Homo sapiens: one gene and its partner. The protein of the gene in region 1 purifies or fractionates together with the protein of each later gene. This does not show direct contact. Each region holds a gene or a part of one and is shown on either strand. Other genes may lie near its edges.

Region 1 (6,904 bases):
TTTTTGTATTTTTAGTAGAGACAGGGTTTCACCATGTTCCTTAGGCTGGTCTCAAACTCCTGACCTCAGGTGATCCACCCTCCTCAGCCTCCCAAAATGCTGGGATTACAAGTATGAGCCACCGCACCCAGCCTATTCTTTTCTTAAAGGAGGAGGCCTTCCCTTCCTCAGGCAAGTAATTGCTGACTACTCCAGCCTACATAACGTCCAGACATATCCAAATCTGTGGAGAACACAAAGTTCTTAAGGTATTTATTTAGAGTCAATAATCAAAGTAAAACTAATAATTATAGCTAATATTTAGTTTGTAGTTAATATATGCTAGGAGCTCGAGCTAAGCACTACCATCCCAGGAAACTGAGGCTTAAAACACTTTTAAAATTTGCTCAAGCTCACAAGCTTGGAATTGAAGAAGAAAGCAATTGAATATTGGTCTTTCTTCTATCATACATCCAGAGGCTCTGCACTTAATCAATACAACATACTGTCTCTTATTGCACAAGTAACTACAAGGTTCATCTGTAAAATTCTATTCTGTAGAATAGAAGGGAAAACAAATTAAGGAATTACAGATGTTTATTCTTCTGAGCTTTAATTTAACGTATTGTTTGATTCAAATAATTTATATATTAGCTATCTATTGCCACATAACATAATACCTCAAAATTTACCATTTTAAAACAACCAACATTCATTATTTCTCAGAGTTTCTGAGGATCAGGAATCTGGGAGCCACTTAACTGAGTGGTTCTGGTCCAGAAGACTCTCATGAAGTTGCAGTCAAGCTGTCAGTAGTCATCTCGACACCCAACTGATGCTGAAGGAGCTACTTCCAAGCTCACTCAAGGTTGTTGGTGGGCCTCAGTTCCTCATTAAATGTTGGCTAGAGACTTCATTCCTTGACATCACATGGACCCCTCAAAGGGCTGCTTATAACATGACAGCTTGCTTGTCTCTGAGCAAGAGAAAGGGAAAAGAACACCCATGATGGACATCTTTTATAATGTAATTACCCAAGTGATATAAGTATCATCACTAATGCTGTATGCTTTTGGTCACATAGACCAATCCTGGTACAGGGATCATTCATTGGGTGCCATCTTGGAGGCAAGCTACCACATCTGCCAGGGTATGAATGCATTTAATCTAAAGTTCTAGCCCTGAACTGTAGGGTTATCTACCATATAAATCAGTTTTACATTTTTTAATATGTAAAATAGGAACATCCCAATTCAGAATATTGCAGGATAAAGGGCCTCAGGTAACTGATTAAGATTCTAAGCTCTCTTTCTCTTTTAAAAGATGAAATTTAAGGCTGGGTATGGTGGCTCCTACCTATAATCCCAGTACTTTGGGAGGCCAAGACGGGGGGATCACTTGAGGTCAGGAATTTGAGACCAGCTTGGCCAAAATGGCAAAACCCTGTCTCTACCAAAAATACAAAAAAAATAGCTGGGTGTAGCGGCGCGTGGCTGTAGTCCCAGGCACTTGGAAGGCTCAGGTGGGAGGATTGCTTGAGCCCAGGAGGTTGAGGCTGCAGTGAGCCAAGACCACCTCACTGCACTCCAGCCTGGGTGACAGAAGGAGACCCTGTCTCAAAAAAAAAATGCAATTTAAATAGTAATGGCATTCAGATAGTAATCACAGTGCACCTGGAACTGGACGGCACCATCTTAGGTTGCTCTCTGCTTTGCGCATGTGGACAAGCCATCTATGACAAATAGTTTCTTTTCTTCCTAAGGATATGCAGCTTCTTTTGTAGTATACTGCATTGTTTTCAGTCCCTTTCAGGAATGTTATCTGATGCCCAACTGATATTTCTCAAATGTTAAAATAAGACTTCTTCATCTTGTTTGGTCTGGACAGAGGTCAACATTCTTCTCATAAAAGCTTTCATTTCTTTTGAAGCATTAAAATAATATTTTAGCACACAAAAAAGGAGTTTATTTTCAAGAAGCTTTGCTTTCTTTTTCAGTTAGTTCTAGATAAGAACTATAACTTCACATAAGATGTTAGAAGGATTTAAGTACATTGCTGAAGGTATAACCATCCATCTTCAGGAAGTAAGAATAGTGAATAGTAAGTATAAAGAAACAAACAAGTCCTGTGATAACATCTTTATCATAATTTTTTTAAGTCTATTATGCTTTATGCAAATGTTTAGATTTCCTTGTTAAAAATCTGCTGGCCAGGTTAGGTTCCCTTTCTGTAGCTTTATTTTCAACTCATAATATAGTGACTATTAAATATTCTTTACTCAACACATTATATTGTAAAAATATACACTTAGTTCTGTTTCTATCACTAAGCCACTACTATTTTAAAAAGGAATATCTTGCATTGTTAAGTTTAGCAGCCCAAATTCTTAAAGGCCTTAGGAATGGTGCTGTCCAATAAGATAACCAATAGCTACATGTGGCTACTGAGCACTTAAAAAATGAGTCTGGCCAGGCATAGTGGCTCACGTCTGTAATTCAGCATTTTGGGAGGCTGAGGTGGGAGGATTGCTTAAACCCAGGAGTCTGAGACCAGCCTGGGCAACACAGGGATGCCTTGTCTCTGTAAAATAAAAAAAATAAAAAAATTAGCTGGGCACGGTGGCATGTGCCTGTAGTCCTAGCTACTCAGCAGGCTGAGGCAGGAGGCCCACTTAAGCTTAGGAGTTCAGGGCTGCGGTGAGCTATGATTGTGCCACTGCACTCTAGCCTGGGTGACACAGTGGGACCGTGTCTCCAATAAATAAATGAATAAATAAATATTAAAAAATAAAAAGTGTGGCTAGTCCAAATTGAAATGTGCTGTAAAATACACACTGGATTCCTTTTTTTTTTTTTTTCAAATCCTGAGAACCTGTGAAACACACTGAATTCTTAAGATTTAGTATGAGGAGGGGAAAAAAAGATCAATGATTTACATATAACAATGTAAAATATCAATAATTTCTATATTGATTATATGATGAAATGATCATGTTCTGGATATACTTGATTAAATATACCATTAAAGTTAATTTCATCTTTTATTTTTACTTTTTAAATATGCAGCATTGCCCAATAAAATACAGGACAACCAGTTACATTTTTATTTTATATATTCCTGCTTGGGACATAATATTTAAAAATTATTCATTCTATATCTGAAATTCAAATTTAACTAGGAGTCCTATATTTTTATTTGCTAAATCTGGCAATTTTATTAATATGGCTACTAGAAAAGTTAACATAACAAATGTAGCTCCTTATCCTATGGAACATTGCTGCTTTAGAATCACCTCGCTGCTTTTTTTTTTTTTCCAGTTAGCTTCTGAATAAACTCTGCACGGAAATAACTAATCTGTGGGGAATATTTAACCCTAGGCTAGGATCGTTAATCGTGAAGTTAAATTTTTACATCTGCATGAACAAAATGGCTTGTTACAGACGAAAATGTGGAAAGGGCATCTGGACTAGAATGAAAAGTCATAGCTCCCAGCCTCTCTACTAGGGTAGTTAACAGTCCCAGGTTCAAAATAATCCCCGTCCCTCTTATAAGATTAGGCGGTGTCAAGAGCAACTATCTGTGAGACCCTGGGCCAGTGACTTTCTCCTTACCTCCGCCCCCAAGTAGGCCTTGCAAAAAGCTGGGAGGGGTGCGTTTTCAACACTGGAGCTTCGCGGCCGCTCTCCCACTCGCTCCCCGCCCGGCGCTAGAGGAGCGAGTTCGGACTCGGACCCCAAGGCCTCGAGTCCCGCTGCCTTCCTAAGCCGAGCCCGGGCTACCTCGGTCGTCCCCAGCAGGCTTGGCTGGCAGAGGCCGGGCCTCGCCAGGTCCCCAGGACAGGCCCCGCCCGGGCCTCAGGTGCACTCCCGGCCCGCCCCGCGCCCTCGCGTCCCGCCCCAGCTCCGCCTTCGCCGGCGCCGCTCTGCCTGCCAGCGGGGCGCGCCTTGCGGCCCAGGCCCGCAACCTTCCCTGGTCGTGCGCCCTATGTAAGGCCAGCCGCGGCAGGACCAAGGCGGCGGTGTCAGCTCGCGAGCCTACCCTCCGCGGACGGTCTTGGGTCGCCTGCTGCCTGGCTTGCCTGGTCGGCGGCGGGTGCCCCGCGCGCACGCGCAAAGCCCGCCGCGTTCCCCGACCCCAGGCCGCGCTCTGTGGGCCTCTGAGGGCGGCATGCGGGACTACGACGAGGTGACCGCCTTCCTGGGCGAGTGGGGGCCCTTCCAGCGCCTCATCTTCTTCCTGCTCAGCGCCAGCATCATCCCCAATGGCTTCACCGGCCTGTCCTCCGTGTTCCTGATAGCGACCCCGGAGCACCGCTGCCGGGTGCCGGACGCCGCGAACCTGAGCAGCGCCTGGCGCAACCACACTGTCCCACTGCGGCTGCGGGACGGCCGCGAGGTGCCCCACAGCTGCCGCCGCTACCGGCTCGCCACCATCGCCAACTTCTCGGCGCTTGGGCTGGAGCCGGGGCGCGACGTGGACCTGGGGCAGCTGGAGCAGGAGAGCTGTCTGGATGGCTGGGAGTTCAGTCAGGACGTCTACCTGTCCACCATTGTGACCGAGGTGGGTGCCGGCCCCTGCTGGGGCTGAGACCAGGGCTCGGAGGACCTGTCGCGGTCCTTGAACCCGAGCTCCTCTCTCCCAGATGCGCACTGGACGCTGTCACTCCCCCTCCCCCAACGGTCAACACCCTAGCGATGGAGACCCTCCAGCCAGGTGGCTTGGGAACGCTTCACGAGGTGACCTCCAGCCACAGTGTGCTCCTCCCTGCACAGGTGGTCAGTCTGGCCTCCCGTCCTGATGGCCACTTTGAAGAGGGTACCAGGAAGGTCCTGGCGGTCCCTGGGCGATGCTCTATGGCCCTGTGTGTCCAGGACTTACTCTAGTTGGGGTTGGGGGTGGTAAGTAGCAGAGCCAGGACTTGGGCCAGGGGCTATCCCGTTTTTCCTCTAGTCTCTTGATTTCTTTTTAGAAGAGAAGAAATACTTCTCTTTCCTGAACTTTTAAAAGTTAAATAAAGCATGTGTATACAACTGCCTCTTCCCTTTTTCCTCTAGTTACTCCTTCCCCTACCGTCCACAACCCAAAAACGACAATCTGGTCATGCCCTGTAAGTAATTGTTTGCCTTTTCCCATGGTCAGTTGTCAGTCTTTTTTTTTTTTGAGACAGAGTCTCCCTCTGTCACCAGGCTGGAGCGCAGTCGTGTGTTCTTGGCTCACTGCAACCTTCGCAGTCGTGCGTTCTTGGCTCACTGCAATCTTCGCCTTCCGGGCTCAAGTGATTCTCCTGCCTCAGTCTCCGAGTAGCTGTGAGCCACGACGCCCAGCTAATTTTTGTGTTTTTAGTAGAGACGGGGTTTCACCGTGTTGGCCAGGATGGTCTCGATCTCTTGACCTCGTGATCTGCCTGCTTCTGCCTCCAAAGCTGGGATTACAACCGTGAGCCACCACGCCAGGCCGTCAGTTGTCACTCTTTAAGATCCATTCATCTGAAGATGGGTTCAGGGTGACTTGTTGACCTGGAATATTTTCTCAGGTATTATGAGGCAAGGCTGTCGGCCAGATTTAGTTAAAGCATACAGCCTTAGGTCATAGGGTGTAGGGGAGCCTTTCTCATTTCTCATCCCCTTGGATTTTCCCTCTGGGTGGTTTTGTCTGTCCCCTCCGAACCTGTTGGAGCAGTTGTTGGAGCTGGATGTAGGAACATGATGTTAATGATGTATGTGTTTTGTGTCTTTTTTAGACACTGGCACTCTAGCTCCCTGAAGTTTCAGCAGCATTGAGTAAGTAGCCAGTGAATAGCCCTCATTGATAGATAGGCTCACTAAATGTGCAGATGACCAATTCGCAGGTTAGAGAAGGCTTCCCAGAAGAGGAGGCCTCTCCGTGAGCCTAGGGTGTTCAGCTCAGCATAATAGTGAGCTGAAGGCCCCAGTGCAGCAGCAAGAAACCACCCAGCAGGACGGCGGAGTTCACAGAGAGGGGAGAGTTCATAGAGAGGGAGAGTGCCACAGGCCCTGGCACAGCTTCAAGCCCTGCTGGATGTTGGTGCTGAGCCTCCCCTCCTGGAGCCTCAGAGGGGCTTACAGGGGCTCTGGAGATCCCAACTGTGTTGCTTCTTGGCGTCATCACCCTTCAATGGAGTCTGAGAGCTACCCTGGGAGATCCAAGTGTGTGTGCATGTGTGTGTTTTTTCTTTTTGGAAATTTGATGTCCCCAGCATTTGGACCTGCTTTCTCCACATATATGTAGTGGGAGTGTGACCGGAGCCCCACTGGGATTTCTTAGCTAGTGACATAGCTTCAGTGTCCAGAGGCATCATGGCTTGACAAAAGAGGCACTCCTTGGAGGTAGCCAACTGTGCTTTCTGGCCCATGAATCCACAGGAAATTGGAACCTTCAGTTGCCACAAATCCTGGGTCCTAGCCTCACAGGTGGGTGTGTTACCTTCCCGGAAGCCAGTGAGTACTATGAAAGCAGAGGCTGTCCCTGAGGTTGCAGGCAGAGGCCACAGAGGGGAACATGACACAGGAATCCCTACAAATTCTACTTGGGGCTGCCTAAAGAAGAGGGAAGTAGTGAAGCAAGAAGAAGCACATGGCATCTCTTGGAGTTTTACATTGACCCCTGAGGGTTCCCCGGCTTACTCTAGTCACTTGTTCCTGCTTTGCTGCCTCCATCCCACATTGGGCTGAGTGATGGTGGCATTGATGAGCTCCCAAAGGCCAGCTGTGCCAGGGGGTCTGACCTTATCTTGCTGCCAATGTCAGCCTTTTGTTTTTTAATATTTAGACTATTTATTTAGCTGTCTTAGCAGTTTCAAAGGAGTTATGTGCCCTTTCACCTACTTATATGTTGTCAGTCTTTGCAGGGAGGCCAGATTAATGCTTAGATCTTTGTTTTGGGCTACTGGAATGCTTGACTTGAA
Region 2 (7,025 bases), about 89 Mb from region 1:
CTTATCCAGAGCGACTAAATTCACTGATATTTGTCATTGAATATGATTTTTAACCCCTTCTCATAACCTCTAAAAAGCAAAGTTGGACTACAGAAAAAGTATACTTTATGTAATAATGTGTTATGATAGCATTAACTCAAATACTGTCCTTTCAGTGCCTCAACAAATTTCCAGATTAATGATAACAGTAAAAAAACAAATACAAATTCACAGGTCAAGTGCAAAAAGATTATTTTTGGGGTAAGATCACTTTAGTAATTCATTTTCATTAGCTTTCCCTGAATCACAGCTGTAGTCCAAAACCTTGTTAAAATACCTCTCTCAAAAGATGAACAAAATTCAACTTACCTTCTTTTCTCCACTTTGATTTTCTTACAAGGGGTAAACCGACCTAAATATTTTTGCAGAGATACACCTCAGTTCCAAAGTTTACCTCTTCTAGTAAATTACACTTTCCCAGAAACTATGGGAAAATGTTGTTTGGTGAATGAGGAATTAATGGTAAAAGGATATTAAATGAAGAATGCCCACAAAGTAGTTGCCTACCAAAGATACCTAGTACATTAGACTGCTCTCAACTCATACCAAAACCAAGGAAAATGGGTAAAACTTACCTTTCTGCCACTGGGCATGGATCTTTTTGCAGTAGACAGAATAGCAGCGGTCTAATGCACTGAGGTAGCACTGTATGGAGAGTTTTCCATCTACTATAGGATATTCAGATAGCATATCAGGCTTGTAAAAATCATAGGCATGTTGCATATGTGTCCCACGAAGCCCTATTAGAACCAAAAAGGAAGATGTCTATATATTTCTGCTTCTTGATGTCTGTATGTTAATAAGTATACTGCATTATCTAAGGACCTTCCTTAACTATCTGATCAATTCTCACCACTTACAGTAGAGAAATCGCAAGCTGAAGCCAATATAAGTGAAATGATACATAACAGTATCCATGGACAGTCCTAAGACTCCTTTGGTATACAACTTTCCATGTCAGTTTCATAACTCTAACAGTTCACAGTTACTCTACTACACTGAAGACAAATTAAAATTGCCAGTGACTATCAGCAAGTTACTATTTATCATTTGAACCCTACATTAACCCACTTCTCTGTAAAGTGGGGATGACACCACCTACCTCATAAAACTGCTATGAAGATTAAATACAGGCCAGGCATGGTGGCTTACGCCTGTAATCCCAGCACTTTGGGAGGTTGAGGGGGGCGGATCACCTGAGGTCAGGAATTCGATGCCAGCCTGGCTAACATGGTGAAACCCTGTTACTAAAAATACAAAAAATTAGCCAGGCATGGTGGTGTGTGCCTGCAATCCCAGCTACTCAGGAGGCTGAGGCAGGAGAATCACTTGAACCTGGGGGCAGAGGTTGCAGTGAGCCGAGATCGTGCCATTGCACTCCAGCTTGGGCAACAAGAGTGAAACTCGGTCTCAAAAAAAAAAAAAAAGAAAAAAAAACATAAATATGATAACACACATAAAGCTCTTAGCAAGTAGTACCTGCATTTAATGACCATTAAGTAAGCGACAGCTCCTACTTCTATTTTCAAATTTCTCAGCATATTGTGCTAAAAAAAACAAAAATGCTTTCCCAAGCACTTACCTCGTTCAAAAATTAAAGGAGCATTTGGCCCAATTAGCAGAGCTACTGCTCCAACTCCACCTGTAGGTCTAGCATTTCCTGTGGCATATACAGCAATATCTCCTGCAACTACCAGGGCATACCGTCCTGAAAAATATTTTTTGTTATTTCACAAGAAGGAATTCAACACTATAACCAAACATGGAAACTGAAGTCTGTTATATTTTCCCCAGAATATGCTTTTCCCTTCTTTGATAAAGAAAGAAAATGCTCTAATTTTTTTTTAAAATTCATCTGCCAAGGCTCTGTCATCCATCTGACTAAATTTTGAATAGACCATTTGTCCTACAAGATAAGATAACCAATTCACAATTCGGATAATGACAGACAGGTAAAATATCTTTCTTAATATATCCAAACAAGGACAAATTACAAAAGTTTGCGTATTGCATTAATTAAAGTGTCATCTGGGTCTATTGAACCTTAGAAAAAAATTTTGGGGGACGGCGGGGAATAGGCATGTAACATACCATCCCAAGAGCTGGACTCAATCCAGTTAACAGCATTGAAGACAGCAGCTGTGCCTCCATAGCATGCATTAGTTGTGTCGATTCCTTCTATATCTGTATTCCCAGACTCTTCAAACAGCTGCATCAAATTAGTCTTCACAGACTTTGATTTGTCGATGATTGTCTCTGTTCCAACTTCCAGCCGCCCAATGCAATCATAGGAAAGGTTATTTCTCTCCATAAGATTCTGAACCACAGTCATGCAAAGAGAGTTAATATCTTCTCTATCTGTGCAGAAGCCCATCTTGGCCTGGCCCAAGCCAATGGTATACTTTCCAGCATCTACACCATCATATTTTTCCAACTCTGCTTGATCAACATATTGAGAAGGAAAATAGATCTCAAGGGCAACAATTCCCACATCTTTTGGCCAGCAAGCTTCTGCATTCAAAGGAAGTGATCCAGGCATGGTGAAAGAGCTTTAGAAAGGAGAAACAGAAAAAAAATTGTTTTAGGTTATAAGTTGCTGGTTTTCAACTTTGAAATTGAGAAATAGATATTAAGAGTTTAGCAATCACCTGAAGTATTAGTTTCTTTAAGTTTAGTATTTAGGGCACTCAATTGTGTACATGTGAAGTAGCAATTATTATATGAATGGAATATTATCATTTAAAATTATAGTCTTTTAGAAAGGCTTCCATTTTATTCAAAATTGGGCATCTCTAGATTTAAAACATGATTATTAGAGGTAAACAACACTCAAATAAGATTTTCTACATTGTAAAGAACTGTAAGATAAAATACAATGATAATTTAGAAATATGGCTGACAAATCAGAATTACCTGACCACCCGAAAGTTTTAATAAATTAGGCCGGGCGTGGTGGCTCATGCCTGTAATCTCAGCACTTTGGGAGGCTGAGGCAGGCGGATCACAAGGTCAGGAGATCGAGACCATCCTGGCTAACATGGTGAAACCCCGTCTCTACTAAAAATACAAAAGAATTAGCCGGGCGTGGTGGCAGATGCCTGTAGCCCCAGCTACTCAGGAGGCTGAGGCAGGAGAATGGCGTGAACCCGGGAGGAGGAGCTTGCAGTGAGCAGAGATCATGTTACTGCACTCCAGCCTGGGTGACAGAGCAAGACTCCGTCTCAAAAAAAAAAAAAGAAAAAGTAAAAATCAATCAATCAATCAATCAATCAATCATGTATTCATCATAGATAAACCAGTCCTCTTTTAAAAAAGGGACTAAAAAGTAGTGTCTAGATTTACTTACCAATAGCAACAAAAATCACTAGCTACTCAAGACCATTGTTGGGCATTTAACTTACCAGAGCTTCAGCTTCTTTAACAGGTTGTATTAGTCAGGAAAAGAAAAATTACTATAGATATTTCAAACAGAGGGGAGTTTTAATGCAGGGAAATAGCTACAAACTTGTTGGCTGGGCTGGAAGAACAAAGCGGAAAAGGTGGTTCTCTGATCCCATGAGCCTGCACTCCTGCTGAAGCTGCTGGAGCTACAGTACTAGTACCTCTGCTGCTGAGCTGGAACCCAGAGACCCAAAGTCCCACTGTTGGTGCTGCCACTGACAAGAACAAGAGAGGTACCTTCTTCCCACCTTCTAATATTTCTTGAGTACTTCCAATATTTCTTGAGTACTTCCATCAGCCCTCTAACCAGAACCCAGATGGCATAAGAACCAATGAAATGTAATTGTGAGGCTTTGAAGAGTGGCACAGCTCCTCAGTTTTAGAGAAAGAATCCTAAAACCTAAAATTCTACAACTCAATTTCCTTTTTAGGTATGACATCATTGGATGGTGCTACTTAGGTGGCAGAATTTCATTGACCCAAAGGTCTTGGGTTATGAGTTACCTGGGCCGAACTGATTCATGAACATTCTGTATGACTTGTTTGTCAACCCATCACTAATTTGATACTTAAAAATGAAAGTCAAATCCTGTATTTATGTCATTTGTCCTCTGCTGCTCTGCAATTAAAGGTCTTAAGGGGCCAGGTGCAGTGGATCATGCCTATAATCCTAGCACTCTGGGAGGCTGAGGCAGGAGGATCACTTGAGCCCAGGAGTTCAAGACCAGCCTAGGCAACATAGCAAGACTCTGTCTCAACAAAAAAAATTTTTTTAAAATGAGCTGAGCATGGTGGTGCATGCCTGCAGTCCCAGCTACTAGGGAGGCTGAGGTAGCAGGATCACTTGAGCCCAGGAGTACAAGGGTGTAGTGAGCTGTGATTGCACCACTGCACTCCAGCCTGGGTGATGGTGAGACCTTGTCTATAGAGAAAGGAAAAAAAAAAAAAAAAAAGAAAAGACTTAAGGGATACCAGTTGTATCTTCCTTCCAAACAGAAGAATCTTTTTTTTTTCTCATTCATCCAACCAATGCCAACATGTTACATACTAAACATTAGGGATGCTTAATGGGAGACTTCCTTATCCTCTCGAATATTCACTATTTTATGGGACAATAAGAGAAAAACACATAATAATAAACAGGTAACAACATTGAGAACCACATTATATAATGGAGAACTACCTAACCCAGCCTGGTGGTAGGGCAAGGAGTGTTAGGAAAAGCATCCTGGTTATAGGGGCCTGACTTGAGCCCCAGGAATGGGTAGGAGTAAGCAGTAAAGCACTGAAGAAATGGAGGGTAGTAGATTTTCAACAGAGTGGACACCATGAAGAAAGGCAAGCTACAAGGAATTACAAAAAACTTTACTTGTCTATTGGAATGAAATGTGAGCTGAGTGGATCAGGTAAATAATAGATTAGAATAACTAGGTAAGGGTTAGGTCATGAAGGTTCTGGTATGCTGATGTTGAGGGCTTCAAATTTATCATGAAGATAGTAAGAAGCCATCGGAGAGTTTAAGGAATAACATGGTGATATTAGTTGTCAGGTCAGTGTTTTTCCAACTCCGGAATCAATTTAGTGGATGGCAAGCACACATTTAAAAAAATGAAACAGAAAAGAATACAAGATATAAGATTGCATGGCACAGGGTAAATGTAAAGATTTTTCTTGAATCAACCTTTTGTTTTAATTATTCATACATATATAAAGTATACATAAGTTGCAATACAAAGTGTATTTTTACTGGGGGCCACAGTCAAAAAAGTTTGACAGCCACTGTTTTATCCTCACTAATGCTGTTTTACAGTCACTGGTGCTGTGAATGGATGAGTTAGGAAGCTGACATGGCAGTCCAGATAAGACATGGGTCATGAACTAGAGCATTTACTACATGTGGAGCGAAGAGGAACAGCCTCCAAAAACATGGAAAAAGCAAAAGAACTGGCAGAAACTGTAACTGACTAGATGTTAGGGAAAGAAGAAAATGTATACAATGACTTCCAGATTTCCATCCTCAAGTGTTTTATGACTTGACAAGCACACTGTCAGATACACTAAATGAACAGAGATCCTCTCCACTTTGTTCTACTCCACTTCTTCCACACAAACCCTGTTTACTTTATGCCCTTTTCCCTGGTAAGTGGAGTTCAGCCAAACCAGCGCTCAGAACCACCACTGAGGAAGTGAAGAGATCAAGCTCAGACAAGCTGCTTTCGTTCCTGTCATTTCACCAACATCTCCATACATTTTTCCAGTTTGGTTTTCCTATCTACTTCCTTCCTATATGGGACTTAACACAAGATTCTTAACTTTCATGTATGCAGTTTATACTAGAAAACACACAAAGAGAACTACACTGAAGTCAACATTAAGGATAAATGCTAAATACTACCCAATCTTTCCCCATCTTACAACTACTTACCTACATAACCCTCCCTCTACCCTTTACTCTCAAATTATTATATTCTTTATCCAAAAACATTTAGTGCTTTCTTCAACAACCCACCTCGTGCTTCTGCTTATTGAAATCCTTTATAGCCCTAGATCACATAGGTCACATTTTACCCATGAAACCTTTCTAAATTACCTTTTGCATTTCTTGCCTATCCTTCTACATCATCATACTTCGTCAATTAAAGTCACTTTTTTGGGTAACATTTCAGAAATTGGGATTCCTCTTACAATTGCTATCAGACAGAAGCCAATTATGATGTTGTCATTGCTTACACATGGGAAAATAACAAAACTGCCAGCATGACATTTGCATATGACAGTCAACAGCCTGAAAGAAATTCCCAGAAATGATACTGGAGCATTCATTTCACCCTCTAGGAACCAAATGGACTGGGAAGGAAGTAGAAGATGGGGAATCCCTAAGCAGCAGTCAAAGTAGGCTGGCTTTGCATAATTGCAAAGCTGAAGGCCAGCACCAAAACCTTCGCATTCTTTTTTGGGATCTTGAAAGGAATGCTACATCACCAATTCTCTTGGCGGCACAGAGGATGTTTAACGGAAAATTACAGGTATTAACAACTCTGACTCCAAAAACAATTCAGAAGGCAGACTCTAAATATGTGAAATTTAGCAATTCCTTATGTGTTTTTTCACTTGTGTTTTCCATCTTATTGAATGTGCAAGTGACATATGACAAAAATCTATGTCTAACTCTAAAAGAGCTCTTTAAAAAATTCTAAGTAATCAAAAAAGCATTGTATCTTAATTTAATTGGCAATGAAGCATCTTAAATTTATTACATCCTAGATTCTTTAGATAGTACGAAATATAGCATTCAGTGCTTCAACTGTGTTACTTCCCAAATATCTGCCTGAATTATGGATTGAAATGTCTGGGTTTCCCCACCAAATTCATATGTTGAAGCCTTAACTCTCAATGTGATGGCATTTGGAGATGGGGCCTTTGGAAAATAATCAGGTTTAGATGAGGTCATGAGAATGGGGCCCTCATGATGGGATCAGTGCTCTTATAAGAAGATAAAACGAGAGCTTGCTCATGCTGTCATACTCTCTCTATGCCATGTGAGG

What was found. Proteins that work in one complex are often made in the same cells at the same time.
Region 2: the proteins of SLC22A5 (region 1) and HMGCS1 purify together in Homo sapiens (affinity purification with mass spectrometry; 2 studies listed by BioGRID and IntAct, with this or other methods). This does not show direct contact.

Annotation. Positions count from the first base shown.
Region 1 is NC_000005.10:132,365,827-132,372,730, forward strand, and holds the start of SLC22A5 (organic cation/carnitine transporter 2), read left to right. Parts: upstream 1-3,883; 5' UTR 3,884-4,146; coding exon 4,147-4,539; intron 4,540-6,904. UniProt on the Homo sapiens protein: Sodium-ion dependent, high affinity carnitine transporter. Involved in the active cellular uptake of carnitine. Transports one sodium ion with one molecule of carnitine.
Region 2 is NC_000005.10:43,296,388-43,303,412, forward strand, and holds part of HMGCS1 (hydroxymethylglutaryl-CoA synthase, cytoplasmic), read right to left. Parts: intron 2,589-7,025; 5' UTR 2,579-2,588; coding exon 2,131-2,578; intron 1,748-2,130; coding exon 1,622-1,747; intron 780-1,621; coding exon 615-779; intron 1-614. UniProt on the Homo sapiens protein: Catalyzes the condensation of acetyl-CoA with acetoacetyl-CoA to form HMG-CoA, which is converted by HMG-CoA reductase (HMGCR) into mevalonate, a precursor for cholesterol synthesis.